Homo sapiens: one gene and its partners. The protein of the gene in region 3 interacts with the protein of the main gene of each other region in a pairwise test. Each region holds a gene or a part of one and is shown on either strand. Other genes may lie near its edges.

What was found.
Region 1: the proteins of PLLP (region 3) and OPRL1 interact in a two-hybrid assay, tested with the Homo sapiens proteins (one large-scale study listed by BioGRID and IntAct).
Region 2: the proteins of PLLP (region 3) and TRIM59 interact in binary tests that used the Homo sapiens proteins (3 or more experiments, as listed by UniProt).
Region 4: the proteins of PLLP (region 3) and SYPL2 interact in binary tests that used the Homo sapiens proteins (3 or more experiments, as listed by UniProt).
Region 5: the proteins of PLLP (region 3) and CYB5R3 interact in a two-hybrid assay, tested with the Homo sapiens proteins (one large-scale study listed by BioGRID).
Region 6: the proteins of PLLP (region 3) and GOLT1A interact in binary tests that used the Homo sapiens proteins (3 or more experiments, as listed by UniProt).
Region 7: the proteins of PLLP (region 3) and PACC1 interact in binary tests that used the Homo sapiens proteins (3 or more experiments, as listed by UniProt).

The regions. Positions count from the first base shown.
Region 1 is NC_000020.11:64,086,171-64,090,514, forward strand, and holds part of OPRL1 (nociceptin receptor), read left to right. Parts: exon of another isoform or gene 1-408; coding exon of another isoform or gene 409-429; intron 430-3,454; exon of another isoform or gene 3,455-3,589; intron 3,590-4,344.
Region 2 is NC_000003.12:160,446,987-160,451,111, forward strand, and holds the start of TRIM59 (tripartite motif-containing protein 59), read right to left. Parts: upstream 2,801-4,125; 5' UTR 2,731-2,800; intron 1,810-2,730; 5' UTR 1,740-1,809; intron 1-1,739. UniProt on the Homo sapiens protein: E3 ubiquitin ligase involved in different processes such as development and immune response. Serves as a negative regulator for innate immune signaling pathways by suppressing RLR-induced activation of IRF3/7 and NF-kappa-B via interaction with adapter ECSIT.
Region 3 is NC_000016.10:57,274,673-57,278,172, reverse strand, and holds part of PLLP (plasmolipin), read left to right. Parts: intron 1-3,500. UniProt on the Homo sapiens protein: Main component of the myelin sheath that plays an important role in myelin membrane biogenesis and myelination. Plays an essential function in apical endocytosis. Regulates epithelial development through the regulation of apical endocytosis.
Region 4 is NC_000001.11:109,479,580-109,483,468, reverse strand, and holds the end of SYPL2 (synaptophysin-like protein 2), read right to left. Parts: 3' UTR 3,352-3,889; coding exon of another isoform or gene 3,336-3,351; 3' UTR 1,335-3,335; downstream 1-1,334.
Region 5 is NC_000022.11:42,624,998-42,629,341, forward strand, and holds part of CYB5R3 (NADH-cytochrome b5 reductase 3), read right to left. Parts: intron 3,285-4,344; coding exon 3,155-3,284; intron 2,692-3,154; coding exon 2,608-2,691; intron 2,393-2,607; coding exon 2,307-2,392; intron 1-2,306. UniProt on the Homo sapiens protein: Catalyzes the reduction of two molecules of cytochrome b5 using NADH as the electron donor.
Region 6 is NC_000001.11:204,207,106-204,211,449, forward strand, and holds part of GOLT1A (vesicle transport protein GOT1A), read right to left. Parts: intron 1-4,344. UniProt on the Homo sapiens protein: May be involved in fusion of ER-derived transport vesicles with the Golgi complex.
Region 7 is NC_000001.11:212,407,877-212,412,220, forward strand, and holds part of PACC1 (proton-activated chloride channel), read right to left. Parts: intron 2,646-4,344; coding exon 2,549-2,645; intron 1-2,548. UniProt on the Homo sapiens protein: Chloride channel gated by pH that facilitates the entry of chloride ions into cells upon exposure to extracellular acidic pH. Involved in acidosis-induced cell death by mediating chloride influx and subsequent cell swelling.

The DNA of each region.
Region 1 (4,344 bases), on a different chromosome or scaffold from region 3:
GCTTCCCTGGGTCCAGGCCAGGGGGACACATGGGTGGGGCACTTTCTGGCTCTTGGCGTTTGTGGGGGAGTCACGCAGGGAGTAGGGGAATATTCTTCTGTTCTGCAAGAAGGGGCTTGTAACCTCTTTTTATAGGACTGGAAAACCTTGACACCCCCTAGTCCATAATTTGCAGCAGGTACTCCCAGGGCCTACCTGGCTCACATTCCTCACCCCTACTGTTTCTCCACACGTTTGCAGTTCTGCAAGAAGGGAGGTGTTCTCTGTGTGTTTGGGGTCCAGCAACTGTGAGGGACCCAGCAGGCCGACACCTCCCATCTGTTTCTGTCCCCAGGATTCACGTGTTTTTCAAGGGCTAACGGAAATGCTGAGATCTAAAAGCATGTTTATTGCTGCCAAGGCCTGACGATGAAACTTCAAGTCAAATTAGTAAGCTTTATTAATGACTACAAAATTTAACATGATATTGAGAAGCTACAACTCAATTTTTTTTGTCATTGTATATAGATTTTGTAAAGTTAAAATCACAAGGACAAAGTAATTTATTTTGATGAAACTCAGAATTGTTAAAAATTCTTTCACTTTTTTAATAGCACAAATGTGCGGCCTGGTGACTGGCTTCCCTGGGGGATGGCTGCTCTGTGAGGGGCTGCCAGACCCTCTGCCTTGATTCCTGTTCTTGGCCAGCCCAGGGTGGTGAGCCTGTGGAAGGAGGAGGGTAGACTGTGCCTGCCCTGGGGGTGGGAGTGGGGAGGACAAAAGACAGTGTTCCAGCTGCCGTCTGGCGTTTGCTGATTCTGAGTCACTGGATGAGAGTGAGGTGTGTGTATTTGCCTGCTGAGTGGGTGTGAATCTCACCCCGGAACCCAGGCCTGCCCAAATACCCAGGAGCTCCAAGAGCAGCCTGTGTCAGGCTTTAATCTGTGGACACAAGCTCTGTGCTGTCATTCGCGTGTCATCGTTCGTGTCTTGGGCTATCCCTAGTATCCTCGCACACAAGCTCTGTGCTGTCATTCGCGTGTCATCGTTCGTGTCTTGGGCTATCCCTAGTATCCTCGCACACAAGCTCTGTGCTGTCATTCGCGTGTCATCGTTCGTGTCTTGGGCTATCCCTAGTATCCTCGCACACAAGCTCTGTGCTGTCATTCGCGTGTCATCGTTCGTGTCTTGGGCTATCCCTAGTATCCTCGCACACAAGCTCTGTGCTGTCATTCGCGTGTCATCGTTCGTGTCTTGGGCTATCCCTAGTATCCTCGCACACAAGCTCTGTGCTGTCATTCGCGTGTCATCGTTCGTGTCTTGGGCTATCCCTAGTATCCTCGCACACAAGCTCTGTGCTGTCATTCGCGTGTCATCGTTCGTGTCTTGGGCTATCCCTAGTATCCTCGCACACAAGCTCTGTGCTGTCATTCGCGTGTCATCGTTCGTGTCTTGGGCTATCCCTAGTATCCTCGCACACAAGCTCTGTGCTGTCATTCGCGTGTCATCGTTCGTGTCTTGGGCTATCCCTAGTATCCTTGCATATTGTTTCGCCTGCCCAGAACATGTGTGTTTGAGGTTGTCTTGCTCTCTCATATAACATGTGCCTCTTGCTATCTCTTGTGTAACATATATGTTCTATATAGGACCCTGATTCTACCTTCCCCCTTCTGGAGGGACCACCCCACCCTTGGCAGGTTGGGGGAGGGCAGGACTCTATTAGGGGTCTAGAGATACCTGGGCCATTTCATCTGCACCACCAGTTCTCCTCCGTGGGAGCGTTTCTGGGTCCAGGGCTGGGCCCCTGCCAACCCCAGGGAGCACTGTCAGTGTCACACCTGGCCAATCCCCTAGCCAGGTGACCAGGCCTGTCTTTCACTCTAAGACTGCGCCTGTGAGGGGCCAGGTGCCTGCCTCCTGCGGGGCTCTGCTGACCACACTCTCAGAGGATATCTGCTGAGACCAGAGCTCACAGGCCTAGCCTGGCAGCCGTATTACTGAATAATGGCCAAGTTAGGAAGGTTCCCAGGGCTGGGGGTCCTGGGGTAGGCTTCTTGGAGGAGGTAGGACTGGAGCTGGCTGGGGTGGGGCAGGATCCATGCAAGGGGCCAGAATCTGCACATGGGCCAGGATCTGTGCATTGAGGCCAGGATCTCTGCATGGGGGCAGGAGTCTCTGCGGGGAGGACTTTTAGGGGGTAACAGGATCTGTGCAGCGTGCAGGATCTTTGCAGTGGGGCCAGGATCTGTGCAGTGGGTAGGATCTACATTGGGAGTCAGTGTCTGTTCAAGGGAGTCGGGGGACAGGACCCGTCCAGGGAGGGCAGGATCTGTACAGAGGGACCAAGATCTACGCACGGGGATAGCATCTATGTGGGGTGGGGGCACGGTCTGTGCCAGGTTTTGGGGGCACTAGATCTTTGCAGGTGTGGCCAGGATCTGTGCAAGGGGTAGGATCTGTGCAGAGTGGCCAGGATCTGTGCAGAGTGGCCAGGATCTGTGCAGGGAGGCCAGGATCTGTGCAGAGTGGCCAGGATCTGTGCAGGGAGGCCAGGGTCTGTGCAGAGTGGCCAGGATCTGTGCAAGGGGTAGGATCTGTGCAGAGTGGCCAGGATCTGTGCAGGGAGGGTAGGATCTGTGCAGAGTGGCCAGGATCTGTGCAGAGTGGCCAGGATCTGTGCAGGGAGGGCAGGATCTGTGCAGGGAGGGCAGGGTCTGTGCAGAGTGGCCAGGGTCTGTGCAGAGTGGCCAGGGTCTGTGCAGAGTGGCCAGGATCTGTGCAAGGGGTAGGATCTGTGCAGAGTGGCCAGGGTCTTTGCAAGGGGGCAGGATCTTTGCAGGGGGGACAGGTTGTGTGCAGGCAGGTGCGCAGGGTCAATGCAGGGGGCAAGGTCTGTACCGTGGGCTAGGGGTCTATGTGGGTGGGGGGCAGGTTCTGCGCAGGGGGCCTAGGCTGTTCAGCATGCCAGGGTCTGTGCTGGGGGTTTGCCGCAGGCACAAGGGAGGGAGAAGCTGTCCTGGGTTCTATGGTTATGAACATGTCAGGGCAGAATGACACAGAACACACAAGAAGTTCAAGGGAACACATTATGAGATTGTGAACACCTGGACTGGGGAGGCCACGGCCTTCTGCTGGACCCTGAACGGCTCCCACAGAGGGAGTTGAGGTCTCTATTGACTCCTGAAAGGCCAGGCAAGGCAGAGCTGGGAGCTGCCTTGGTGGGGGTGCAGGTGGCTGGTTGCTATTGCTGGGTGAGAAGGCTTGGGGTCAAAAGAGGTGGGGGTCAGGGAGCTAGGTCTGACCTCGTCCCCCCTCCTTTCTTCCTGTCCTCCTATCCCCAGCGTGTTTTCCTCCCTCTTCTCCCATCCTTCCTTACCCATCCTCTCTCTTGATCTCTCCATACTTCCTCCCCACTCCTTTCCCTTTCCTCCTCCTCCCCATCCCAACCCCTCATCCTCCCTGTCTCTGCCTGTAGGGAGGAAGCTGTGGGGTGACCCAGGTGGAAGACAGACATGCGAAGGGAGAGGTGTCTGCAGTAGCAGGGATGAGGTGCTTGTGTCCCACACTCTGCCCTGGCCTCTGACACTGGTTCCTGGTCCGGGGACATCAGGTTGGGCTCCTTTGTCCTTCCCTTACGAGGTCTCTGCTCTGCCCACCCTCAGTGCCTACAGTGCCCAGGCTGGGTCCCAGGCTGGGAGGCAGGCTCAGGAAGCTCGGGTAGGAGGGTCTAGGGTCTCCTGCTCAGACGTTGGTGAGCCCAGCTGGGGCGGAGGGCTGCAGGAGTCCGAGCCTGCCTGGATTCCTGCCCCCTCTCGGCTCCTGAGGTCAGGGGGCTCACCCTCGAGCTTTGCCTGGAGAGCGTGTTTGTGCATGTGTGTGTCCTCTGGGTGTCGGAGGGCCTTGGTCTGTGTCTGCCTGTTCCCAAAGGTGTCCATGCACACTCTAGGTCTACCCATGTGCCTGCGTGCACGTTGGCGTCATCTTGCATGTGTGTGGCCCGTGTGTTTGTGCATCCCTGTGAGTGTCTGCATTTCTGAGTGTGTACCCATCCATGTCTCTGTGTGTTCACCCGTATGCCTGTCTGGGCATCTGTGTGTGTGTTTGCAGGAATGTGTGTCCCCATGTGTCCCTTGAGTGTCTCTGTTGACGTGCCCCGTGCCTTCACACGTGTCCCTGAGTCTTGGTTGCCGTGAAGATGCAGGGAGAAATCCTGGGGGACAGCGAGGGATGCTGGGTCCTGGGGCATCTGCCTGTTCCGTCCTCTCCTGATTTGCCAGGTATCCTAGCAACGCTGCTGCCAGTTGCCTAGCAACCAGGTCCCCACTCATGGAGAAGGTGCTCGGAGCAGGGTCTGAGCTGTGTGGG
Region 2 (4,125 bases), on a different chromosome or scaffold from region 3:
TTTAATGGGTACACAGTTTCAGTTTGGGAAGATGAAAAAGTTAACGGAGATAGTTGATGGTGATAATTACAAAACAATTTGAATGTATTTAATACCACCAAACTGCATACTTAAAAAGATTAAAATGGTAAATTTTATGTTTAGCATATTTTACACAATAAAAAAAAAACTTTAAAAAATTTTCAAGCGTCTTGCCTATTATCCAGTCTTCCTTTTGCTAAATGAATTTGAATCAATTTATACTACTGTATGTTTTTAAAAAGCAAAAAAGTAAAATAATCCATGTAAAATGTATTTTCCTCTAGTGAGTACTAAGCTCATGTAAAAACCAAGTTCAAGATTTCCTGCTTCTCTTTTAAAACCGAGAAATATTAATATAAAAAAATGAATCTTCTCAGAAAGAAACCTGAGGCTAAATCACTCTACTTACAAATTATTTCACTAATGTCTAGTGTGTTTAAGTGTCAAAACAAATACATTTCTGAATTTCCAAACTTTTTATTAAGTCTTTCTCCAGAGGGCCAATTCACTAGTGAGCCTCCCTGATGTCTAACTGGCATATTAGGTAATAGACAGTATAATAGATGATTAAATAGCACCGAAAATATCATTACCCATTCTCCTGTGTAAACCAGTTTTTAAGTTTTAATTCACTAATGCTTTCCTGCCTTTCAACTCTAAACATGAACAGTTGTAAAACGTTCATTACATTTCACAACCTCTGAAAGGAAAATATATTTATTACATTATAGAATTCGATGACTTGTCCCAAGACTTCTAGTGAGTCAGCTTTAAGTATGGGAAAATTCAAGTGGTGCCACCACCCAAACTGGGGCTCACATCTTTGTGGACCTAACTGATAAAGAAGAAATACATTTCATGCAAGTCAAGACTTACTTAAGAAATAACTACAACTGCACCATTTATAAACATATATAAGATTTTTTTAACATTATCGCAGAAAGTCTGAGAAACAAGATTTTTAAAAATAATTCTGTCACATATAAATATACAAAAATAGTGAGAGATCACCTTAACTTTTTCAAATTAAAAAAATCCTATGGTCAGCTGATTTTAAATCTCTTTGTCCATCTGTACTATTTTCTTTCATTTTGATATCAACCTGTTTCCCTAAACTAAAAAATAAAAATAAAAACTAGAAACAAAACAAAAAAAGACTATTAATTCAATTTAACCGGAATTGACTTGAGAAATTAAGGCTTTAATTGCTTTTGCTGTACTTTTCAAAGTAAAAATATATCTGGTGGGAAATATTCATCAACGTGTTTAGTGAAAGGCAATGTCAAAACTAACATCACCTAAAATCAAAATTTCACCTTGCCAGATTAAATAGCTACTTACTCATTTAAAAAGACCAATACATGAATGCATAGTGAAAAAGTATCCAGGTAACTTAATTTGCAGTTTTGTGTAGTTCTGCAGATCTGTATGTATAAAATAACAACTTTGCATGTGTTTTGAGATGTACACATTCTTGTAAAATTTCTAGAAGGATGTACAAAAGAGTTAAGTGACTACTTTTAAGGTACAGATCAGAGAAGGGAGTTGTTTATTTTTCACTTTATGCTCCGCTCCTTCGATAAAATGGTTGGAGTTTTATACACCGCCAACACAATGTTTTTTCAAAAGACTTCTAAATTTCACTTTGTAGTTTAAATCATACACTCTGTAAAAACTTAATTGTTTTTCATATTTATTTAATCTCCCAGATTACCTACTTTGTTGATCTCGTGGTTTGGGGGCTGAATACACTCTTCTCCAACTCCTCCAGAATCTTTTATTCTTATTCTAAAATTAAAATAATGTTATCTTTAATGTTTTCAATTTATTGTCTCATGTCATAAAAATGGTTGTTAGTTCACTGTCTTTGATATTTATCTTCACGATGCTTCATCGTGTTTTCAGAAAAGCCACAAACACCAACACAGTTGCTGGAGCTGCAGTAGAGGTATCGCTTGTTCCTTGAAAATCCTAACTCTGACCAAACAGACTGTCACAAAGGACCTCTTTTCACAACGTCAAGTAGCTTATGAGCTCTCGACAATATTACCCAACAATGGTGATGGCAGAAAAAACATTCACGGTCATTTTAGAGTGCTTAAAATTAACTGCAAGACAAAAGCATCCATGGGAGTAAAATACCTTGCCAGCTCTAAATTATAACTGATTTAGTATAGTTTGCTCATCTCTCTGTTCTGCCATTTCAATGCTGTGGGACCTGGGTCAGTATTACCAAATACCTCTCAAAAGTGAGGCTTCACATCTGTAAAATGGGTAACTGCACCTACCTCACTTAAGTCCTGCGAGCACCTCCCACAAAGGGGCTCAAAATGGCAGTACTCTTCCCTTCCCCTTCTCAAAGCTCCACTCTCCCAGGCCTCCCTCCTAACGCGCCTCCACCTCGGCACCCGCCCGTCCCCAACCCCGCGGGACTGACCGACTCGGCGGCGTCCGCTCAGCTCACCCTCGCCACCACAGAGGGCCTCCTCCCTCACAGGAACGCAGCTCCACAGTGGAGGGACGGGAAAGTGGCTCCCCAAACTCCAGTATGGGACAAGAGGGAATGAGTGCAGGTCCCAAGCCACTCCCTCCATCGTCGCGCCCCCAGGACTCCCCGCCCAACACACTAGGCACACCAGACTGTGCTACAGGAAAAGAAAAAGGACTCAGAACCACCTTCTCCGCATCCGTAAAGGTCCTTAGACTCACCGCGGGGAGGAAGCGGACCAGGCAACTCCACAGCACGGAAACACAGCGCCACGAGCTCCAGGCGGATGCTGAGAGCCGCCCCGAGTCCCCGCCCTCCTCTGCCCCGAAGGGCTTCAGGTGCCCAGACCGGGCGGGGCCTCGCGGAGCCTCGCAGCGCAGGCGCAGTCTGCAGGCAACATTCAACTGCAAGGCATCGGCCAATGGGAACTATTGCTGGGCTCGTTCGAAAGTAAACGGTGGACGGCGCGGCCCGAGGCAGGTGGCGGGAGTCAGTTTAAGGCTGGCGCCCAGCTTTCCGCGCCTGCGTGCTAGGCGCAGGCCGCCTCTCGGAAGCTTGGCCTCGCAGGAGCGGCTCTCTATCCTGTGGGGAGCTTCGGCCAGTGGGCCTCGTGAGCTGGGGTCCCGCCTGGGGAATCCGCATGGCACCGGTGGTCTGGGGGAGAGGCTGGGCCTGGCGCGGGACGAGGCGAAGCGCCGGTGGCCGACGGCTTCTGAGGAATTATCTTTTACTTGGCGCCACACGGGGCGGGGCCTCCTGCTATGCTGTGGAGCGCAGTGTCTTCCATCGTTGCCTCACAGACCCGCTGCTCCGGGAAGTCGCCACACATTCTCAGGGAACACCCACATCTGTCGCCTGCGCCCTCCGCCGCTCAGCTGTTTGCTTTTGTTTACGCATTCCGGAGACCTGACCCACCGGAGCACTGGGCTGAGCACAGGAGAAGGGGCTTTGGAGCGCTCTTTGTACTCAACTCCAAGAGCGAGTGGGAAACTCAGGACTGGGTTGGGTAGATCCCTGCGTCTCTCCCTAGCCTTCGTCCTCTTCCCCCGTTTTTCCACTTTATGAAAGTATTGCCTAGAGATGAGGGCTGTCCAACTCAACACTTCCAACTTCAAGTTCCTACTTCACCTCTAACTCCCTAGAGTTAGAAAACAACGTACAGCTTAGAGGTTCCTTTCCCTTTTTTTCTTGAGAAACTTTATTCAGCTTTATCTCAAGACATCACCGCTTCCCTCTCCTGTCAACCTTAAATAGTGAGGTTCTGGAAATATGATTAAGGATAGAGTTTATTCCAGCGTAAGGCTTGAGGGTAGCCACCCAGGAGACACCAGCTCCAAATGGGGTTAGCATTCCAAAGTGAAGAAGTTAGGGTTTCGCCTAGGTGGCCAGAGACAAATTTTAACAGGATTTCATTTCCCCTAAGAGACCAGTGCATACTTACAGCTATTTGGTAGGTTACAGATTACTACATTCCAAGAAAAAGTATTTTGTTACTCCATGAGGGGGGGTAGTGATCTCAGGGGGTTGTATCTCTGGTATGGTTTGGTCCTCCTATTTTAATTATTTATAGAAACAAAAGGCAGACGTTGCAGATGCCTGCTGCTTGACTCAGGCTG
Region 3 (3,500 bases):
AGACGGGGCTTCACCATGTTGGCCAGGCTGGTCTTGAACTCTTGACCTCAGGTGATCTGCCTGTCTCTGCCTCCCAAAGTGCTGGGATTACAGGCATGAGCCACCGTGCCTGGCCACTCTTCATGTTTTGAGACTTGTCTTCCTTCCTTGTAAACTGTTGTGGAGTAACCCGTAGTGTCCCGGCAGCCTCTGCTCATTTAGCTGTTTCTCTACTGATGGAATTGTTTTATTCTTTGAAAAAAAAATTACAGAGACATAATACAAAGCACTCAAATAGTAGAAAGGGTAATCAAGAAAATGTAATCTCTCTCATCCCTGACTGACCACGCCCCACAGCTGCCCTCACCCCAGGCAACCACATGCCTTGTGTCTCATTCCAGGGTGAGTGGATGCATATTTCTACATAAAACCCACATCCTCACTTAACCACAGATAGGTGCTGTCTGGGCATGTGCCAAGCCATGCTTTTCCCCAGGGCAATACACCTAGGGATATTCTGTATCAGTGCACAGCAAGCTGTGTCCATCTTTTTCATACCTTTATTACCTAATTTCTTTTTCTTTATTTTTATTTTGTTTGTTTGAGGCAGAGTCTTGCTCTGTCACCCAGGCTGGAGTGCAGTGACGTGACCTCAGCTCACTGCAACCTCTGCCTCCCAAGTTCAAGTGATTCTCCTGCCTCAGCCTCTTAAGTAGCTGGGATTACAGGCACGCACCACCATGGCCTGACTAATTTTTGTATTTTTAGTGGAGACAGGGTTTCACCATGTTGATCAGGCTGGTCTCAAACTCCTGACCTCAGGTGATCCGCCCGCCTCGGCCTCCCAGAGTGCTGGGATTACAGGCGTGAGCCACCGCACCCGGCCCCTAATTTCTTTAATAGGTAATGTATTTACAATGCTCAAGAATAAAATAGACAGGGAAGGAGTACAGTGAAAAATCTCTGTTCCCTTTTGGTTAAAGTTGACTCCTTCATGCCCACTCTCAGTTTTCTATATCCCATTTTAAGACTTTCTTTAAGGAGACCTATGCAAATGTGGCTCTAGATTCCTCTCTCTCCCAGTTTATATAGTCTCCCCAAGATATATAGTCTAGCCACATCCTTCTGCACTTTTTCTTTTACACTTAAAAAATGAATCTTGGGGGTCCTTTTGTCTCAGTGTGTGGAGTGCAATTGCTTCTTTCTTTATGGCTTCTATAGTATTCCACCATGCAGCTGTGGTGTGACTGTGTGGTCAGTCCCTTTGTTGACAGACACTTCGGGTTTTCTATTCCTTTGCTGTTGCGCACCCTGCTGCAAGAAATGCCACCAAGTGCATCTGTACGATATGTTTCCAGGAGTGGGACTACTGGGTGGGAGGATACATGCATTTGGGATTGTGATGTAGATTGCCAAATGCCTTCCGGAGAGGTCACACCCTTCCTGCCTGCAACAGCATGCCTCCTGGAAGGTTCCTGTTCCCACAGCCTCCCAACATGGTGATTTAACACACTTCTGGATGTGCCCCAATCGAATAGACCAAAATGATAGGTCAATGTAGTGTTATTTTCATTTCTCTCTCTCTCTTTTTTTTTTTTTTTTGAGACAGAGTCTCACTCTGTCACCCAGCCTGGAGTGTAGTGGCATGATCTTGACTCACTGCAACCTCTGCCTCCTGGGTTCAAGCAATTCTCTGGCCTTAGACTCCCGAGTAGCTGGGATTACAGGCGCCCACCACCAAGCCCGGCTAATTTTTGTATTTTTAGTAGAGACGGGGTTTGGCCATGTTGGCCAAGCTGGTCTTGAACTCCTGACCTCAGGTGATCTGCCTGCTTCAGCCTTCCAAAGTGCTGGGATTATAGGCATGAGCCATGATGCCCAGCTAATTTTTATATTTTTAGTAGAGACAGGGTTTCACCATGTCGGCCAGACTGGCCTCGAACTCCTGACCTCAGATGATCTGCCTGCCTCAGCCTTCCAAAGTGCTGGGATTACAGGCATGAGCCACCAAACCTAGCCTATTTTCAGTCTCTTATCAGTGAGGTTGACCTTTTAAAAAATGTGTTTGGGTTGTTTGTTGGTTTTTGAGACAGGATCTCACTCTGTCACCCAGGCTGGAGTGGAGTGGCACGATCAGGAATCACTGCAACCTCCGCCTCCAGGGCTCAAGCCATCCTACCACCTCAGCCTGCCGAGTAGCTGGGACTACAGGTGCTCCTCACCATGCCCAGCTAATTTTTGGTAGAGACATGGTCTCACTATATTGCCCAGGCTGGTCTCGAACTCCTGGGCTCAAGCAGTACTCCTGCCTCGGCCTCCCAAAGTGCTGAAATTATAAATGCAAGGCGCGGCGCCAGGATCTAAAAGATGTTTAAGAGCCGTTTGTATTTCCTTGTCTGTTTGTATTCTTTGCTCATTCTACTGAGTGTGGTTGGTCTTTGCCTTAATAACTGCTAGGAGTTCTGGATTATTTGCAAATATTTCTTTCCTAATTTGTTTGTTTTGCTGGGTTTTTTTCCCCCTCTCATGGTGTTTTTTTTTTTTTTTTTTTTGCCTTGCAAAATTTTGTTGTAGTGTTTTTTTTTTTTTTGCTGAATTTCTTTATTTCATTCCTCTTCCTTTTTTCTTTCTGGGTTCTGGAAATTGAATCATAGTTCAGTCTTTTTCACTCCAGTTGTATCTGTCTGGAATGTATTAACATTGTTACATATTTGTTGTATTTAATTACCTTGTTAGCTTCTATTGTGACAGATAATACAGGTTTCCCACTTCCTAGTGATTTAAGTTTCCTTTTTAAAATTAGCTTATATATGTGATATATACAAGTTCATCAATGGGGACTAGTTTAGATAAATTATGATACATCTGTACAATGGTGCATGATGCAGTGAGTAAAAAGATATCCCCCCACCCCTCAAAGAAGACAATGCAACAGCTCTGTGTATAAGGATGGACAATCTCCAGGCTACCTATTTAAGTGAAAAAAGCAAGGTGCAAAATTGTAGCATGCTATCATTTGTGTGGAAGAAGTACACAGATACAAGACACACTTATCTGAAATGCATGTGTGTGTGTGTGTGTGTGTGTGTGTGTGTGTGTGAAGTCCCTGGAGACACACATAAGAAACCACTCTTGGCCGGGCGTGGTGGCTCACGCCTGAAACCCAGCACTTTGGGAGGCCGAGGCGGGCGGATCACGAGGTCAGGAGATTGAGACCATCCTGGCTAACACGGTGAAACCCCGTCTCTACTAAAAATACAAAAAATTAGCCGGGCATGGTGGCGGGCGCCTGTAGTCCCAGCTACTCGGGAGGCTGAGGCAGGAGAATGGTGTGAACCCGGGAGGCGGAGCTTGCAGTGAGACAAGATCGCATCACTGCACTCCAGCCTGGGTGACAGAGCAAGACTCCATCTCAAAAAAATAAACAATAAACTACTCTTGATCCAGGCACAGTGGCTCACACCTGTAATCCCAGCATTTTGGGAGGCCGAGGCAGGCAGATCGCCTGAGGTCAGGAGCTC
Region 4 (3,889 bases), on a different chromosome or scaffold from region 3:
GGGAGGTGGGCGCTGTGAATCAGAAGGGCAAGGGGAGGGAGTCTGTAGGAGGTGCTGAAGGACACAGGGGTGGTGTGGGGGAGGGCCTCGGCTCCCGTGTCGTGCCTCCTCTGTGGGAAACCCACGCTGCCCTGATGCAGAGCAGAGGGTTGGCGTGGCGTTGTCTGGATTTGAGAGGACCTGGCCAAGCTGACCAAGATCACCTGTCATGATGACAGGATGACAGAAGGCTGTCTCCGAGCCAGAGCCAGCCCCAGAACTGGGGTGGCCCCGAGGCAGCTGGTGTTTGCAGCATCTCTGCTGATCTGTCTCTCTTCTCTTGAGAACTGCGATCGATACCCTGTACAGCCTCTTCCCAAACCCTGGCTGGACCCTGACTCCATCCATCACTTTGCCTTCTTTTTCTAATGAATACTTTCTCTGCTGGAAGGGCTGCTTCTGAAGCCTCGGCATAGGGAGATTTCTCATCAGAGCTGTCATCTTCCTTGCTAAGGTCTGGAAAGTACCTTAATCATCCATTTCTTTCATCTTCTCAGCTGATAACATTTCTTCCCACCCTCACACAATCAGACAAAAGTCTGCCTACTCCATTTCCCGCCCCCCCCCCGCCGCCATCGCATTAAAAAAGTAATACTAATCCTTTTTCCTCCTCAACCTCTCACACCTCACCCCCGACGCTTGACCCTTTAGCTAAGGGGAAAACAAGTTGGGGAGCAAGACCTCAGATTTTCTTCTCCTTTTCATCCAGGGAAGGTGTAAGTACTTCAAGAATAATCTCTGAGGGCAGGGAATCTCAACCTGAGACCCACAGATGATCCCTAGGGCATCCAGGAATCAGGTAAAAATTAAATGTTCAATTGTACCCAAGGTATTTTTCTAGGGGATGTAAATGTAGTGTGTGACTCTCTGAAGAGGGATAGAGGTGCAAGTTTGTTCAACAAGAAGCTGATAGTTAAGAAAGTGAAGCATATGGCCCTCAACTCCTGACAGGAAGCCTGTTTGGGTCACAGATGGTAGGAGAACAAATGGAAACAGCTTTGTGGAAGCCACTATCTCTCACCTTTTGAGTTTGCTCCAGAATTGCTAATGAGTCCCAGTTACTTTGGTCTAATTGGGTGCCACCAAAAGAGGAGATGTCACTAGACCAGAGCCTGCTAGGAATAACTGCTCTCCTCTCTGCACCCCAAGCAACAGAGTCTGACTTTGTTGCTTGGGGTGCACAGTGGAAAGCAGTAGAATGATATCTTGGTGAAAGTCCTGATATTGGTTCAAGAACTTAAAGCAAGGGAGAGGAAGAAAAAATAAATCCCCGGAAGGACTCCAGTCTCAGATCCTTCATGGCAAGTACTTGCAGCACTGTTTATTCAAATATATAATAACAAGCACCAGAAAACAACATGCAACATTCTCCCCCCACCCCTGATCTGCAATCCCAGAAGTAGGAGGCTCATGACTATGATAGTGAAGGAAACTCATGTCCAGGAAAGGTCCTAGGTGGGCACCCTGGTGCTGGGTTAGAGTCTAGTGGGACAAAGGGCAAGTACCCTGCCCATTAGCCTCCTACAGCAGCTGGAGAAACCAGACACCTTCTTCTACCTCAGGCCCCACTTTGCAAAGCAGTGATGCCAGCCCTGGTTGGAGAGAACATGAGTCCTATGAGGCACTTGGCCCTGCCCAGCCCTCTGGAGGTAATGAGGTGAAGTAGCCTTTCCTCTTAGGGTGGCCATAGAGAGTGAGGCCGTAGCCTAAATCAAGGCTCTCCTGATGGAGAACAAGAGAGCCTCTTGAGAAGAAAGAGAACGAGGCTTCCTTGCTCTAAAGAGAGTCCTGGGCTGGGAGTCCTTGGCAGGAGTGAATATAATCTCCCCCCACCCCCTGCCCGCAACTGCTTTCCCTAGCTGAAGGCCCAGTTGCTAACTTCAGCCCCCAAATGAGAACACTACCCAGCACATTTCAAATAAATTATAAATACAGACACAGAATCCAAACAAAGATCCAGTAGAAGCTGCTCACAGACCCCCACAGAGGCCGGCTTGAAGAAAAATGAAGGTCACCCCTTTGTTCTCTGTGTCTCTGGAGCTGTAGGCAAAACTGTCCCCCCTTGTCCTTGAGTAACCATGGGGACAGCTCATGACAGAGAGTTTCAGACTTAAAAACCCTCTCACCCCATCTCCTTTCTTTCCTCCTCAAATCTCTTCCCCAAAATCTTAAACAAACAAACAAAAACTAATTCTTTCACTGAGGGACTCAAGCATTTGGGGATGTAAATCTCACCCTTTCCCCATCGGGAGGAAATGACTGGCCTGAAGTCAAAAGTCCTGACTCCTAGGTACCCCAGTAATGCACATGTTACTATGGATGGTGTTTAGAGAGGTGAGGAGGTTGAAGGGGGTTGACTCAGTCCTGAGGAGAGATTGGCACAGGGCACATTCACCTTTAGGATGCTTAGTGGGCCAATTGGCACTGGATTGGAAAGTGGTCGGATTCTTCCCTCTTCTTCCTTCCCTGGGAAGCCCTATGGCCAGGGCAGATTGAGCTGGGTAGGAAGCAAATGATCCTTACCCAGTTAACACTGATTCTCAGCCTTGGGGCCCAGAGAGGGACTGAAGGAGGTATCAGGAAGAGGATATACACTAAAGACAAATATGGAACTGGGTCCCAAAGTGAAGAAGCACCAATAGCATCGGCCTGCCCTGGACTTGAGAGGGGATAGAGACTGGGAGAAATAAGGACACAGGGGAGAAATGGGACAGCAAGGGAAGAGGGAACATCCTGTTTTCAAGATGAGAAGGAGAAATATGAAAGAAGGACTAGAGAAGGAGCAGGGGAAAAAACTGAGCAGGGAATAAGGAAAAAATGGGCCCATCCATCCTGGGGCTCTGGGGCAACTTAGCCTCATGATGGTCCTTTGGCCCTTCCTAAGCCCCTGTCTGGCCCCACAGGAATAAAAGGAAGGCCTGGACAGACTTCAAAAAGGATCTCAAATGCCTCAGATGCACGATGCTGGGGAAGGGAGATGGACAGAGAAGTAAGGGGATTAGGAGGCAGGTCCTGACTCCACATTTTTGAGTCCCAAGTGTGAGACCAAGAAGGAGGACAGGGAGGAAGATAGGGCGTTTCTAAAGTAGAGTTTAGAGTGTTGGTGGAAAGTGCCCCAGCCTGGTGGGTGGGAGGATTGAGGGGATAGAAGAAATTGATTCTGCCAGCAAGCTTACTGGCTTTACTTTCTTGAAGCTGCAACTCAGTTGCAATTTATCTTGCTCCCAGCTGAGTCCAGGAAGGCCTCATCAGGACCCTCTGAAGGGCTGTTTTCTAGGCTGGTGGACCTCTCTGGTTCACACATGGTGGATTCTGTGGGCAGGCAGAGGCCAGAGAAGACAGTGGAAGGCACACTGAGTCATGGGATGACTGGAGATCAGACGCAGGGACTAGATGACAGCCACTGAGGAGGGGTCGCCAAACCACTATTGGGGCCTCCACACAAGGGACCAGAGGGGAAGGCTACTAGCTGATTTCCCTTCCCCCTAATATTGTTGAAGCCGGACAGGTTGACAGAAAGGTGGCTGCTAGGAACCAGTCTCAGAGCACTGGTTTCCTGCCCCCAACCCTCACCTGCAGCAGAGGCTGGTTCTCAGAGACTGTAAGGGTACAAGTAAGACCCCAAGTAAGATACCTGGGTCCAGGCACTGCACAAGAAGCACTGAGCTCCTGCCATTCATGGCTCCAGCAAGAAGGAGGATAGGAAGCCACTGAGAGGGCTGCCCAGGTTTCCAACAGCTGATGCCTGCCCATCGTCTCAAAGCTCAAAGACCAGAATGATGGGGGAGGGGAATTGGAGGAGGAGGAAGAGAAAGGTCCTGGAAGCCGGAGGTGGTTGAAGAGGTGCTGT
Region 5 (4,344 bases), on a different chromosome or scaffold from region 3:
AACAGTTTTTCCAGTTTCTGAGGGTGGGAGGCTGAGGGCCCTTTCTGCCCTAATGGGGTGAGGACAGGGACAGGGACAGGCTTTGGGCTAGATGAACTCAAGGAAAAAAATACAGAAAATATGGAAGAAAAAGTACCTGAAACCCTTCAGAAATAATGACTGTTAGGATTTTTGTGTGCATCTTTTCACTTTTCTTTTTCTATTAACTATGTGTAACTTTCTTTTTAGGCCAGGCATGGTGGCTCATGCCTGTAATCTCAGCACTTTGGGAGGCTGAGGTGGGTGGATCACTTGAGCTCATGAGTTCGAGACCAGCCTGGCCAACATGGTGAAACCCCGTCTCTACTAAAAATATAAAGAATTAGCTGGATGTGGTGGCGGGCACCTGTAATCGCAGCTACTCAGGTAGCTGAGGCAGGACAATCGCTTGAACCCGGGAGGCGGAGGTTGCAGTGAGCCGAGATTCACGCCATTGCACTCCAGCCTGGGCAATAAGAGTGAAATTCCGTCTCAATTTTTTTAAAAAAAGTTATGTCTTCCTCTCTGAGCTAAAGTGTGTCTCATGCTTTAATCCTCACCACCATCCTTTGAGGTGGCCACCGCCGCGACCCACCTGACAGATGAACAGAGGGATGGAACCTTGGGGGGCTGCTACTCGAGGGTAGGGGGCTCCCAGCTCAAAACCAGGCACTGAGGTCACGGAGGAAGGTAGGAGAGGAAACGAGCAGCAATGACCCGACTGGCACGGTTCTCGGAGTGTAGCATGGGGACCCCTGGGGTTGGGACCCTGGAGAGGATCCCTGAGGCCAAATGGTTTTCATATAATACTGAGACACTGGTATTTTTCACTCTTCCTCTCTCAGTAGATGGGGCCACTTTCCAGAGGCTGCGTGACTGGCAACATCACACAGATGGGATGTAGAAACAAACACAGGAATCTAGCTGTCCTATGAAGCCAGACATTCCAAGGTTTGCAAAAACGTAAAACAGAATGATGTTTTCTAAAATAGTTTTTTAAAAATAAAAATAGGCTGGGTACTGTGGCTCACGCCTGTAATCCCAACACTTTGGGAGGCTGAGGCGGGTGGATCACCTGAGGTCAGGAGTTCGAGACCAGCCTGGCCAACATGGTAAAACCCCATCTCTACTAAAAATATAAAAATTAGCCGGGCATGGTGGCACACATCCTGTAATCCCAGCTACTCGGGAGGCTGAGGCAGGAGAATCACTTGAACCCGGGAGGCGGAGGTTGCAGTGAGCCAGGATTGTGCCATTGCACTCCAGCCTGAGGGACAAGAGCGAGACTTTGTATCAAAATAAATAAATAAATAAAACCCTGGTTTGCATCCTGGTTTCAGCACTTCCCACGAGACATGCACAGTCAAGCCCCTCCCGGAGCCTGTGTTCGGAGGTATGAGATGAGGCGACCACACTGCCCTCGCTACCAGCTGCAAAGATGGCCTGTACAGGTGACAGACGGTCTGACGGCCTCCACAGACTCTGAACCAGCACCACCAAGTCTCACTGCTGCCCTCTCTCCCTCCACACCAGCCAGCTTAGAATTTCTGGCTCTTTCTCCCCTGGGCCTGGCAAGGCCATCTTGGTTGGCCTTGCGGCAGTTTTCTGCAGCTGCGGGGAGGCAGGGTGGGGCAAGGACCCACATCCAAGGACCTCAGGCAAGCATCTTCTCCCCCAAATCTACGTCATCAGTCACAAAACACTAACCTGAAAAGACCTTGCAACAACCCAGTTTCATCAGCTCATTCTACAGATGAGGGAGTGAAGCTCAGAGAGGGAAAGTAGCTCGTCCAAGACCACACAGCAGGCCAGGGCGGGCAGGCAGGCAGTGGGCTCGTGGACAAGGATATGAATCAGGAGCCAGAGACACCAACATTCAAATCCTGCCCTGACACCCTGTAGCTCAGGGGCTTCGTGCAAATGTCTGGTCATTTGTAAGATGGGCCCCTCCATGTCCAGGCCAGCATTCTTCCCACTCTACCAGTGGGTTCCACACCGTGCTCATGGTGAAGGGAGTTCTGAGTTTTGGAGGAAGCAGCCAGGGGAGGGGGTGCTCAGGGAGCTCCCCGCAAGGCAGCCCCCTCAGCCAGACACAGGCGCTGCACCACAAAGCCTGCCCGCCGTGCTGCTGCCAAGGCCGCCAGTGCACAGAACATTCAGGGCCCCCCATCCCGGTCATCCCCAGAATCTCAGCAGAGCTGTGCAGACCCCTGGAACAGCACCTGACCAGGCCCGAAGTCCCCTCTCAGGGTAAGCTGAGTTTCCCCATCATGGGGATGCCCACTGACCTGGTTGGCAAAGAGCAGGTGGCACACAGTGTGGTCATCAGGGTCCTTCATGATGGCGCGGATCACCTGCAGCATCGGGGTGATGCCTGCAAAATAGCCGGCCGGGCCTCGCACGTGCTGAGCGAGGCCTGTTCACAGGCACCGCCCCGCCCAGGTGTACTGGGGTGGAGGGGCCAGGACCACTGGGCCTGGGCCCCTGACCTCTGGTAGCTCCCAGGCACTCAGAACCTGCGCCTCACCCACACCCCAACCCCACCCTTAACATGAGCCGCCGGACGCCTCAGTGGGGGGTTCCGTGTACCTGTCCCTCCCGCGATCATGCCCACAGACTTCACTGTCCTGATGATAGGGTTGGACTTTTTGTCAGGTCGGATGGCGAACTTCCCTGGGGAGAGAGAAGGGGTGAGGCCCGGCCATCAAACATGCCATGTGTGGTGGCTGGAGAGGCTGGAGAGGGGGCTGGAGAACCTGCCCCCACTGTGAGGTCCGAGGTAGAGGCAGCTGCCATTCTAACGCGAGCCATGAGGAAGGTGCAGGAGCAGTGGAGAGGCTGGGAACCCGGAGGCTCAGCTCTGTCCTCTTGCTTGCTTGTTTCAGATGCTGAGAAAGCCAAATAGAGGCTGGCAGTGGGTGAGACGTGGCCCCCAGGAGTGGCCTGTCTGCAACCCCTGTGCCAGCAACTTACCCCCTCTACAGCCAGGGAGACTCAGTTCCCAGAGAGGGACAGCTGGCCTGACGAGAGTCACCCATCCACACAGAGCCAGGGGCCTGCACCCTGCACCCAGCACGCCCAAGCTCTCCAATTCTCTGAGCCTGCCGTGTAACCAAGGGATTCCGACCCGAATCACCTTTGCCCTGGTAGACCAGCAGCCCACTGGGGCCCCGGAACTCAATGGTGTCTCCAATCTGCATGCTCTCCAGGTACTGAGACATCTTCCCTCCAGCGGGAAACTTGGGATGGGTGTCCTTGAAGTAAACCTGCAAGACACCCCCGCAGCCCTCAGTCCCCAGCTCCAGGTCTCAGGGGCGAGCTCTTGCCCACAGTGGGAGACAAGTGCCTCTTCTGCAGCTTCTTCTGAGGCCCACACATGGCCTTCTCCCGTGGAGCCCCATCCACCCAGCCGTCAAATCCTACCTGTCCTGCACCCCGTCCTTCACCCCGTCCTCCCAGGAGTCAGCCTCCACCTGACATATCCGGGGAAAGCAAACCACCAGCCTCGTGTACAAGGCCGACCAACTCCAGGGCTGGATGCACTCACATTTCACCAACTGTCTCTGGGGCCCCCTCCCAACGGGAGACACTGAACCCGTCAGCAAAGTCAAGGCTCTGGGAGGCCCACTAAGCCACACTCCTCCTGGTGGACACTCAGTCCCTTCCGTTTTGTGCTGTCGCTAAAAACCTCCCTCACTCTTGGGACTACTTCCTGCCCTGCACTCTCTAGGATTACTGTCTTGGGAAAGAGAAGGGCCTCAATCCGACACCTACAAAGAAATGGGGAGACAGAGGAGGAGCGGCTCACCCTGCCCAAGGAGTCTGATGGATGGAGAAGGGGAAGGTGGCTGGGGGAGGGACAGCGTGTACACAGTGCCTCAGGGAGGGGAGCCTGTTGTGGCTTCAGCACAGAGGGTGGCTATGGGGTGTGGAGGCAGAGGGGAGTGGAGGGCCACGGACAGGCAGGCAGAGCACACTGTCCTGGGCCCTGGGTGCCAGGCCAGGACTCTAACCTTTATCAAGGACCAAGGGAGCCAGCCAGGTCTCCAAGCCAGGAGAGGCCTGGTCACCTGTGAGTTTTTCATCCTCAATTTGAATCCTCCTAATAGCTTCTCCACATTTGGCCAGAGAGACTTCAACGTGAACAGATGCTTGAGCCCTCATCACCTCCTCTGTGCTTCTGGACAAAGCCCCAAACCTTACTGGGGCCTCCAAGGCCCCGTCTGGCCCCACTGACCTCTCCCACCCCTTGCCCCAACCCTCCAGCCACTTCAATCCTTGAGCCTGCTGCTGACTTCAGGGCCTTTGCACCTGAAGCTCCTTTTC
Region 6 (4,344 bases), on a different chromosome or scaffold from region 3:
AGTTATCCAGCCAGAGGTTACTCCTAAAGTTCTTTTCAGGCAGCAACCATGGCAGAAAGAGTGGAGGGGTGGGGATGTCATACAGATGCCCCCAGGAGTGACAGGTGTGCCTGCCCGGCACGGTCCCCGTGATCCAGACAGATTGGGCAGCGCGCCCTCTGCTGGAGGCGGCCAGGGCTGTCACGCCTACACCCAGCCGAAAAAAGCTGGGAGGCCAAGGTAACTTCAGGGAGGCCCGGCTCTCCAGGCGCCACCTAGAAGTGGAGACCTCCCCAGACCTCAGAGACCAGCTTTAGATCTCCCTGGCAAGGTACACTGATGGCTGCACTGGTGCCCTTGTTTAGCTCCTTGCTCTGCAACTCCCGAGTTGCTGCCAAGAAGAGCCCATGGCCACCCGATACGGACAAGCCAGGCTTCCCTGACTCCCCATTTTGTGGCTCACTTTAAGAAAAGCCAGGTTCAATGTCTTTCTTGCTCCAGAAATCAGCTACAGCTCCAAGAAAACAATATCTCATGGAGCAGGCAGATGAGTCCTTCTGGCCTCAGGCACGCAGTGAGTCTCAGAACATCATCGTCTTTTTTCCCCCTTTTCCTTTTCTTAAAGCAATCACACATGTACAGGAAACTTGCAAGTACAGTACAAAGAATATTTTTCTTGAACCATTTGAAAGTAGTTGCCACCTCATACCTCATCACCCCTGAATGCTCTGGTGTGGTTTTTAAAACTCCTGGACACTAAGGACATGAATAGACAATTCTCAAAAGAAGATATACAAACAGCCAACAAACATGAAAAAATGCCCAACATCACTAATGATCAGGGAAGTGCAAATCAAAACCACAATGTGATACCACCTTACTCCTGCAAGAATGGCCATAATCAAAAAACAAACAAACAAAAATAAATGTTGGCGTGGATGTGGTGAACAGGGAACACTTCTACACTGCTGGTGGGAATGTAAACTAGAATAGCCACTATGGAAAACAGTGTGGAGATTCCTTAAAGAACTAAAAGTAGAACTACCATTTCATCCAGCAATCCCACTACTGGGTATCTCCCCGGAGGAAAATAAATCATTATACGGAAAAGATACTTGCACATGCCTGTTTCTAGCAGCACAGTTTGGAATTGCAAAAATATGAAACCAGCCCAAATGCCCATTAGTCAATGAGTGTATAAATAAATTGTGATGTGTATATATATACACACACATATACATATATATGTATACATATATACACACATGTATGTATATATGTGTGTATCTATACACATATACACACATATGTATACATATATGTATATATGTATACATATGTGTATATGTATACATATGTGTGTATATATGTATACTTGTGTGTGTGTGTGTGTATATATATATATATATATATATATAAAAAATGAACTACTACTCAGTCACAAAAAGGAATGAAATAATGGCATTCGCAGCAACCTGGATGGAATTGGAGATCATTATTCTAAGTGAAGTGACTCCGGAATGGAAAAGCAAACATCATATGTTTTCACTCACAAGTGGGAGCTAAGCAATGAGGATGCAAAGGCATAAGAATGATACAATAGACTTTGGGGACTCATGGGAAAGGGTAGGAGGGGCTGAAGGATACAAGACTACACATTGGGTACAATGTACACTGCTCGGGTGATGGGTGCACCAAAATCTCAGAAATCACACTAAAGAACTTATTCATGTAACCAACCACCTGTTCCCCAAAAACCTATTGAAATAAACAAGCAAACAAAAAATTCTCCTAAACAGCCAACATACAGCCATCAAAATTGGGACACTAACATTGATATGTGACTATCCTCCAACCCTCAGACTCCATTTAAGTTTCATCAGTTACTCCAGTAGCATCATTTATAGCAAAATAATCCAGTTCATCATTCTGTGTGGTATTTAATGATCATGTCTCTTTAAACTCTTCTGTCTGGAACAGCTCCTTGGTCTTTCCTTGGCATGACCTTGACACTTTTGAAGATTCAGGCCACTTATTCTGTAGCCATCCCTCCATTTGGGTTTGTCGGATGTTTCCTCACGACTAGCTTCAGGTTATGCATCTTAGGCAGAAATAGCACAAGATGTGATGCTGTATTTTTCTCACTGCATCCTGGTAGGTGGTGCAAGATGTCAATTTGCCCCATAGCTGATAATGTTTCTTTATTCTTAAGGCAGTATCTGCCAGGCCCCTCACCACCCCATCCCTGACCCTGCAGGGGATGCTTTGCCTATGATACTTTGTACCAGGCCACCCCTAGTGTGAACACCCTTCTCACCCTGCTGGGGTTCTAACACCCCACTCTGGGCACCGCCTTCTCTGTGTTAAACCTAATGGCTTTAAGACTGAATTGTTCAGGAAGAGGAAGGAGGGAAATAAGGAGAGAAAGAGCCTCATTCACTTTTTAAAATTAGCAATAGTGATTGATAGTGTAATGAACATACTGGGCCAGGCACAGTCTAAGCACATATATGCTTTAAGTATATTAACACATTTAATTTTCATAACTACCTGTGACATAGGTACTACTATTAGCACCATTTCACAAACAAAACTGAAACACAGAGGTTAAGTCACTTGCCTGGGGATACACAGCAGCTGGCAGAAGCAGGATTTGAACTTAGTCTTGAGCTCCAAACAGTGCCTTTTGGGCAGGCACGGTGGTTTACACCTATAATCCCAACACTTTGGGACGCCGAGGTGGGTGGATCATCACCTGAGGTCAGGAGTTCGAGACCAGCCTGGCCAACATGATGAAACCCCGTCTCTACTAAAAATACAAAAAATTAGCCGGTGAGGTGGCGGGCACTTGTAATCCCAGCTACTTGGGAGGCTGAGGCAGGAGAATCGCTTGAACCCGGGAGGCAGAGGTTGCAGTGAGCCAAGATCATGCCATTGCACTCTAGCCTGGGCAACAAGAGTGAAACTCCATCTCAAAAACCAAAAACAAAACAAAACAAAAAATAAAAAGTGCCTTTAACCAACCCAGTCCAGTCCACTTCTGCAGGCAATGCTCTTGCCTTGGCCATTAATGACCTTCATGTTACCAGATCCAATGGGCAGGTGTGAACCATCATCTGTTAGAACTGACCACTGCCGTGTTGAAACAGCCTTTCTCTTGGTTTGTGCACAACACGTTCTTGATTTTCTTCCTACTGCTCTAACTGCCCTTTCTCTGTCTCCTCTGCCAGCTCCTACTTCTCTCTCTTCTTCTTGGGATTTGAATTGCACAGGGCTTGTGCCCAAGCTCACTTCTCTTCTCATTCTATTTCCACATGTATTCCCATGTGTTTATTTTTGTTTTTAATTTTGTCTTAAAGCTGGGATCTCGCTCTGTTGCCTAGGCTGGAGTGCAATGGCACAATCATAGCTCACTGCAGCCTTGAACTCCTGGGCTCAAGGGATCCTTCTACCTCAGTCTCCTGAGTAGCTGGGACTACAGGCACTTGGCCACCATGCCCAGCTAATTTTTTAAAATTGGTTTAAATTTTTTTGTTGTTGAGACAGGGGTTTTGCAATGTGCTCAGGCTGGTCTTGAACTCCTGGCCTCAAGCGATCCTCCCAAAGTGCTGAGATTACAGGCATGAGCCACCACACCCAGCCTCTCACGTCTTCAAACCTCCCTTGTATGCTGATGACACTGATGTCTCTCTTTCTAGTCCATGCCTCTCTTTGGGCTTTGAAACTCATATCTAGCTGCTTACTTGGCATATCTGCCTGGTTTTCTCTCAGCCATCTTGAACTGGGCTAATCTTCAATCCCAAACTGGTCTATTTATCTTCCCTCCTTCAACTTGTGCCTCCCTTGGTTGTCCTCAAATGAGTAAACATGTCACCACCGCCCACCCCACCACTTAACGCAGAAGCCCACCCCTCCCCCATGAAATCCACAGCTAAGTTTTCTTTTCTTCTTCCAAGATACATGTTGAAAGCTGTCCATTTCTCTCCATTCTTAACACCTAATTCCCGGCCACGATCATCTCTTTCCTGGACGTATGCAGCAGCCCCCATTTGGCCTCCTGCTTTATTCCTGCACCCTCCCAGTCCTTCTCCACACGGCGCTCAAAGGTCTTGCAAAACATACAACCTGATCATGTTAGCATACTGCCTAGACTCCTTCACGGCTGCCCACTGAGATTAGACTGCAGCAGAGCCTTCTCATCCACACCACAGCTCACAGGCCCTGCCTGGTGGGGCCCAGGCCTGCCTGCCCACCTCATCTCCTGCCACTGTCCCTATTGCCTGCCATGCTCCAACCACACTGTTCTCCATGGCTTCCATGTGAGCCCTCTTGACTCAGGGCCTTCGTACATGCAGTTTCCTGGTC
Region 7 (4,344 bases), on a different chromosome or scaffold from region 3:
CCAGCCTGGCCAACATGGTGAAACCCCATCTCTACTAAAAATAAAAAAGTAGCTGGGTGTGGTGGCACACGCCTATAGTCCCAGCTACTTGGGAGGCTGAGGCAGGAGAATCACTTGAACCTGGGAGGCAGAGGTTGCAATGAGCCGAGACTGTGCCACTGCACTCCAGCCTGGGTGACAGAGTGAGACTCCATCTCAAAAAAAAAAAAAAAAAGAAAACACCACTGGTGTAGTAGAGAGAGTTTAGGGTTGGGCAGAGTTTGACTCAGTCTGTGTTTACCAGCTATATGACCTCCCCATGCTTTACTCAACCTCCCTGAGGTTGGGGGCCTCATCTGTAAAAGGGGGATAACCACTTCACAGGGTTGATGTGAGAATTAAATGGGGCAAATGGGGTACGACAGATCCTGGCACAGGAGAAGCAGTCAGGAAATGTTAGCTGCCCTTCCAGCCTCCTTCCTTCCAGGCAGTCTTTTTTTACTTTATTTTATTTTTTTTTTTGAGGCAGAGTCTCACTCTTGTCACCCAGGCTAGAGTGCAGTGGCATGATCTCGTCTCACTGTAACCTCCGCCTCCTGGGTTCAAGCGATTCTCCTGCCTCAGCCTCCCAAGTAGCTGAGATTACAGGCATGTGCCACCACACCTGGCTAATTTTTGTATTTTTTAGTAGAGACAGGGTTTCACCATGTTGGCCAGGCTGGTCTTGAACTCCTGACCTCAGGTGATCCACCTGCCTCAGCCTCCCAAAGTGCTGGCATTACAGGCATGAGCCACCGTGCCCGGTCCCTTCCATGCAGTCTTCTGTAAGGAGCAGGCAGAACCACATTAGTTCCTGTCTTGTTCCCCTCTCCCACAAACAGATGGGATCCATCCAAGAAGTTGAAGTCAGGCTGGGGCTTCATTCATTCACTCAACAAATCTTTATGGCGTGGTCAAGGCTAGGCTGGTGAGCAAAACAGACTGGTCTCTGCCCTCAGGGAGTTTCATTCTAGTAGAACAGGGGTCCCCAACCCCCAGGCCACAGACCAATACGGGTCCATGGCCTGTTAGGAACTGGGCCAATACAGTAGGAGGTGAGCAGTGAGTGAGCATTACCACCTGAGCTCCACCTCCTGTCAGATCAGCTGCAGCATTAGATTCTCATAGGAGTGCAAATCCTATTGTAAGCTGCACATACAAGGGATCTAGGTTGTGTGCTCCTTATGAAAATCTAACTATGTCTGATAATCTGAGGTGGAACAGTTTCATCTTGAAACCATCCCCCAACCTCCATCTGTGGAAAAATTGTCTTCCACAAACCGGTCCCTGGTGCCAAAAAGTTGGGGACTGCTGTAGTAGAACAGACAGACATTAGTCAGACAAACAAACGCACCATTCCAACAGCAATAGCCGGAAAGGAGAGGCGCGTGGACTATGAGACGGTGCTGGAGGGTGGGAGGTAATCTGGCCAGAAGGTTAGAGAAGGCTCTGTGGAAAAAAATGAGTGAGCTGAAAGCTGAAGAATGATTAGGCATTAACTATGTGAAGAAGGAAAGTGAATTCCAGGCAGAGAAATAAAACAACAAAAAGGCCCTGTGGTGAGAGGGAATGAGGCCTAAAATAAAAAAAGATCAGCATGGCTGAGGGCCAGAGAAAAAGGGGATGAGAGGAAGGAAGGAATGGAGAACTACTCTGAAGTTCAACTGCGTTAAGTGGTAGTACCATTCCTGCAAACAGGAAATACTGGGAGAGGACCAAGCTGGGACTGAGATGATCATGAGGTCAATTTTGGACATGTGGAGTTGAGGGAAGCTTTGGGAGATCCAAGCAGAACTATGACATGGGCAGTTGGAAATACAGGATATATAAATTTGCGGTTTGTAGGTAACCTCTGGGCTAGAGATGTAAACATGGGAGTCACGTGTGAGCAAGCAGTGGCTGAAGCAAGGGAGCAGGCCTGGGTAGAACTGTCTATGAGAGTGAGAGAAAGGGGCCTGCAACCAACATTTCATGCCCAAGAGCTGGAGAGTGACCGCAATGGAGCCTGGAAGGAGTGGCCTGAGAAATGCTGCATCACAGAAGCTAAGGGAGCAGCGTGTATCCGGGCGGAAGAAGTAGTCAGCAGTGTCAAACATTGCCGTAGGGCTCCATAAGATGCCAACTGACTGATGGGACCCTGCTTACCCAACTGAGCAGCATTACTGGACAGGCCTAGTATCTGAAAGAGGGGGCCTATTAGATCTTCTTTGACCCGGATATTAGAGGCTCACCTGCTAGCAGTTTCCAGGGAAAGAGGAACAGAAGAGCAGAGATCCAAAGCATTTGCCATTGTATGCAATGACCTGACCTCAGGAAGTGGCTCAAATTGGAGTTAAGAGCAGATACCAGCCTAGACATATCCTCTGTTCCAAGGCTGGTTAAATATGTATGGCTTTAAAACTAGGGCAATACTTGAGACCTGACACCAGGGTGCAGGGAAGGGGGCTCCTCCTCTCCCACAGTTGGCAAGGCGCCTAGACTGGGGTGTCCAGCTGCAGCAACAGCACAGCAAAGCACCAAACGCACTCACCTGGTAAGATACCCGGACCTTGGACTCTGACCGTCTCCTTGTCCTGCTCGTCTGCCAGCTCTGAGTTCTCAACCACCTGGACCAACTCCTCACTCAGCTAAAGGGAGAAGCAAAGAGAGCAAAGACAAGTCAGCTATGTCAGCCTTGCTTTTCTACACTAGAATAAGAAAGCAGAAGCTGCTTGTCACTTAATTGTCACCAAAAACCACATGACATAGAGTGTGTTACAGCAATTTTACAGATGAGGACACCGAAGCTCAGAAAGCTCAATAAACTTTCTGCTCTCTGTGTTCCTAGGACTACTGTAGCAAGTACCACAAACCGAACAGCTTAAAACAACGGAAATGTCTTCTCTCACAGTTCTGGAGGCTAGAAGTCTGAAATTGAGGTGTTGGCAGGGTTGGCTCCTTCTTCTACGAGTGGTGAGGAAATCTGTTCCATGCCTCTCTCCTGGCTTCTGGTGACAGCCAGCAATCCTTGGAGTTCGTTGGCTCGTAGAGGCATCCAATCTCCACTCTCCGCTGCCATCTTTACAAGGTGTGCTCTCTCTGTGTCTTCACATGGTCATCGTCTTGAAGGACACCAGCCATGTTGGATTAGGGGCCCACCCTACTCCTGTATGACCTCATCTTCACTAATTACACCTGCAATGACCCCATTTCCAAACAAGGTCACAATCTGAGGTACCTGGGGTTAGGACTTCAACATATCTTTTTTAAGGAAACACAATTCAACCCACAATATTTTCCATGGCCATAAAGCCAGGGAAAGATATGGCAGGAGTAAAATCCAAGTTGGTCTAGTTCCAAAGCCCATAGTCTTAACCACTTCCCAAAGGAAGAGGAAATACGGCTTAGAGTCTGCTGAGAGAAAAGAGGGAACAGTGAAGGTGGTGTCAGAGCTCTCTCTGGCACTCTGGCTGAAGTCCACTGACTTGGGCTGCAAATGGCAGAACACAGCAGGAAGGGCAGGCAGTCCACCACAGGGATAGGTGCTGATTATAATCAGCAGCCTGGTAGCCAGCAACCTCAACCTCACTTCACCAGTGGTCTCACCTGTCAAATGGGGAAAATTATACCACTGAGAAGGGAAGAAGGACGGAAAGGATACCATGATAATCAACAAGTCTCTGTAGGATTAAGGAGGAGGGCAAGAGAGCTCAAGACCAGAGCTTAGAAGAGAAGCCATCCCTGAATTGGGAGGGAGAGGGGACAGCTTTCCCAAGCACTTTGTCAGGTTCACAGCATCAGTGTTTAAGGTTTTAAGGTTTCTAGACATTTTCATTAAAAACTCACCTCCAAGAGACAAGTGAAAAACATCTCTTACGAATCTATTCTTCTATCTCCCTCTCCACGACTCCACTCCTGCCCCTTAGAATCAGGCAAAATCTCCAGTTTAAAGCCCTCGAAGCACAAAAGAAAAGGCCAGGTGCGGGGCCTGACACGGTGGCTCATGCCTGTAATTCCAGCACTTTGGGAGGCCGAGGTGGGCGGATCGCCTGAGGTCAGGAGTTCGAGACCTGCCTGGTCAACATGGTGAAACCCCATCTCTACTAAAAATACAAAAATTAGCCGGGCATAATAGCGCACACCTGTAGTCCCAGCTACTTGGGAGGTTGAAGCAGGAGAATCTCTTGAACCCGGGAGGCGGAGGTTGTAGTGAGCCGAGATCGCACCATTGCACTCCAGTCTGAGTGACAAGAGTGAAACTCAGTCTCAAAAAAAAAAAAGAAAGAAAAGAAAAGCAACCAGTGGGAAAGGGCAGGGAGGCTGGTGAAGGCACCAAGAGATATAAGC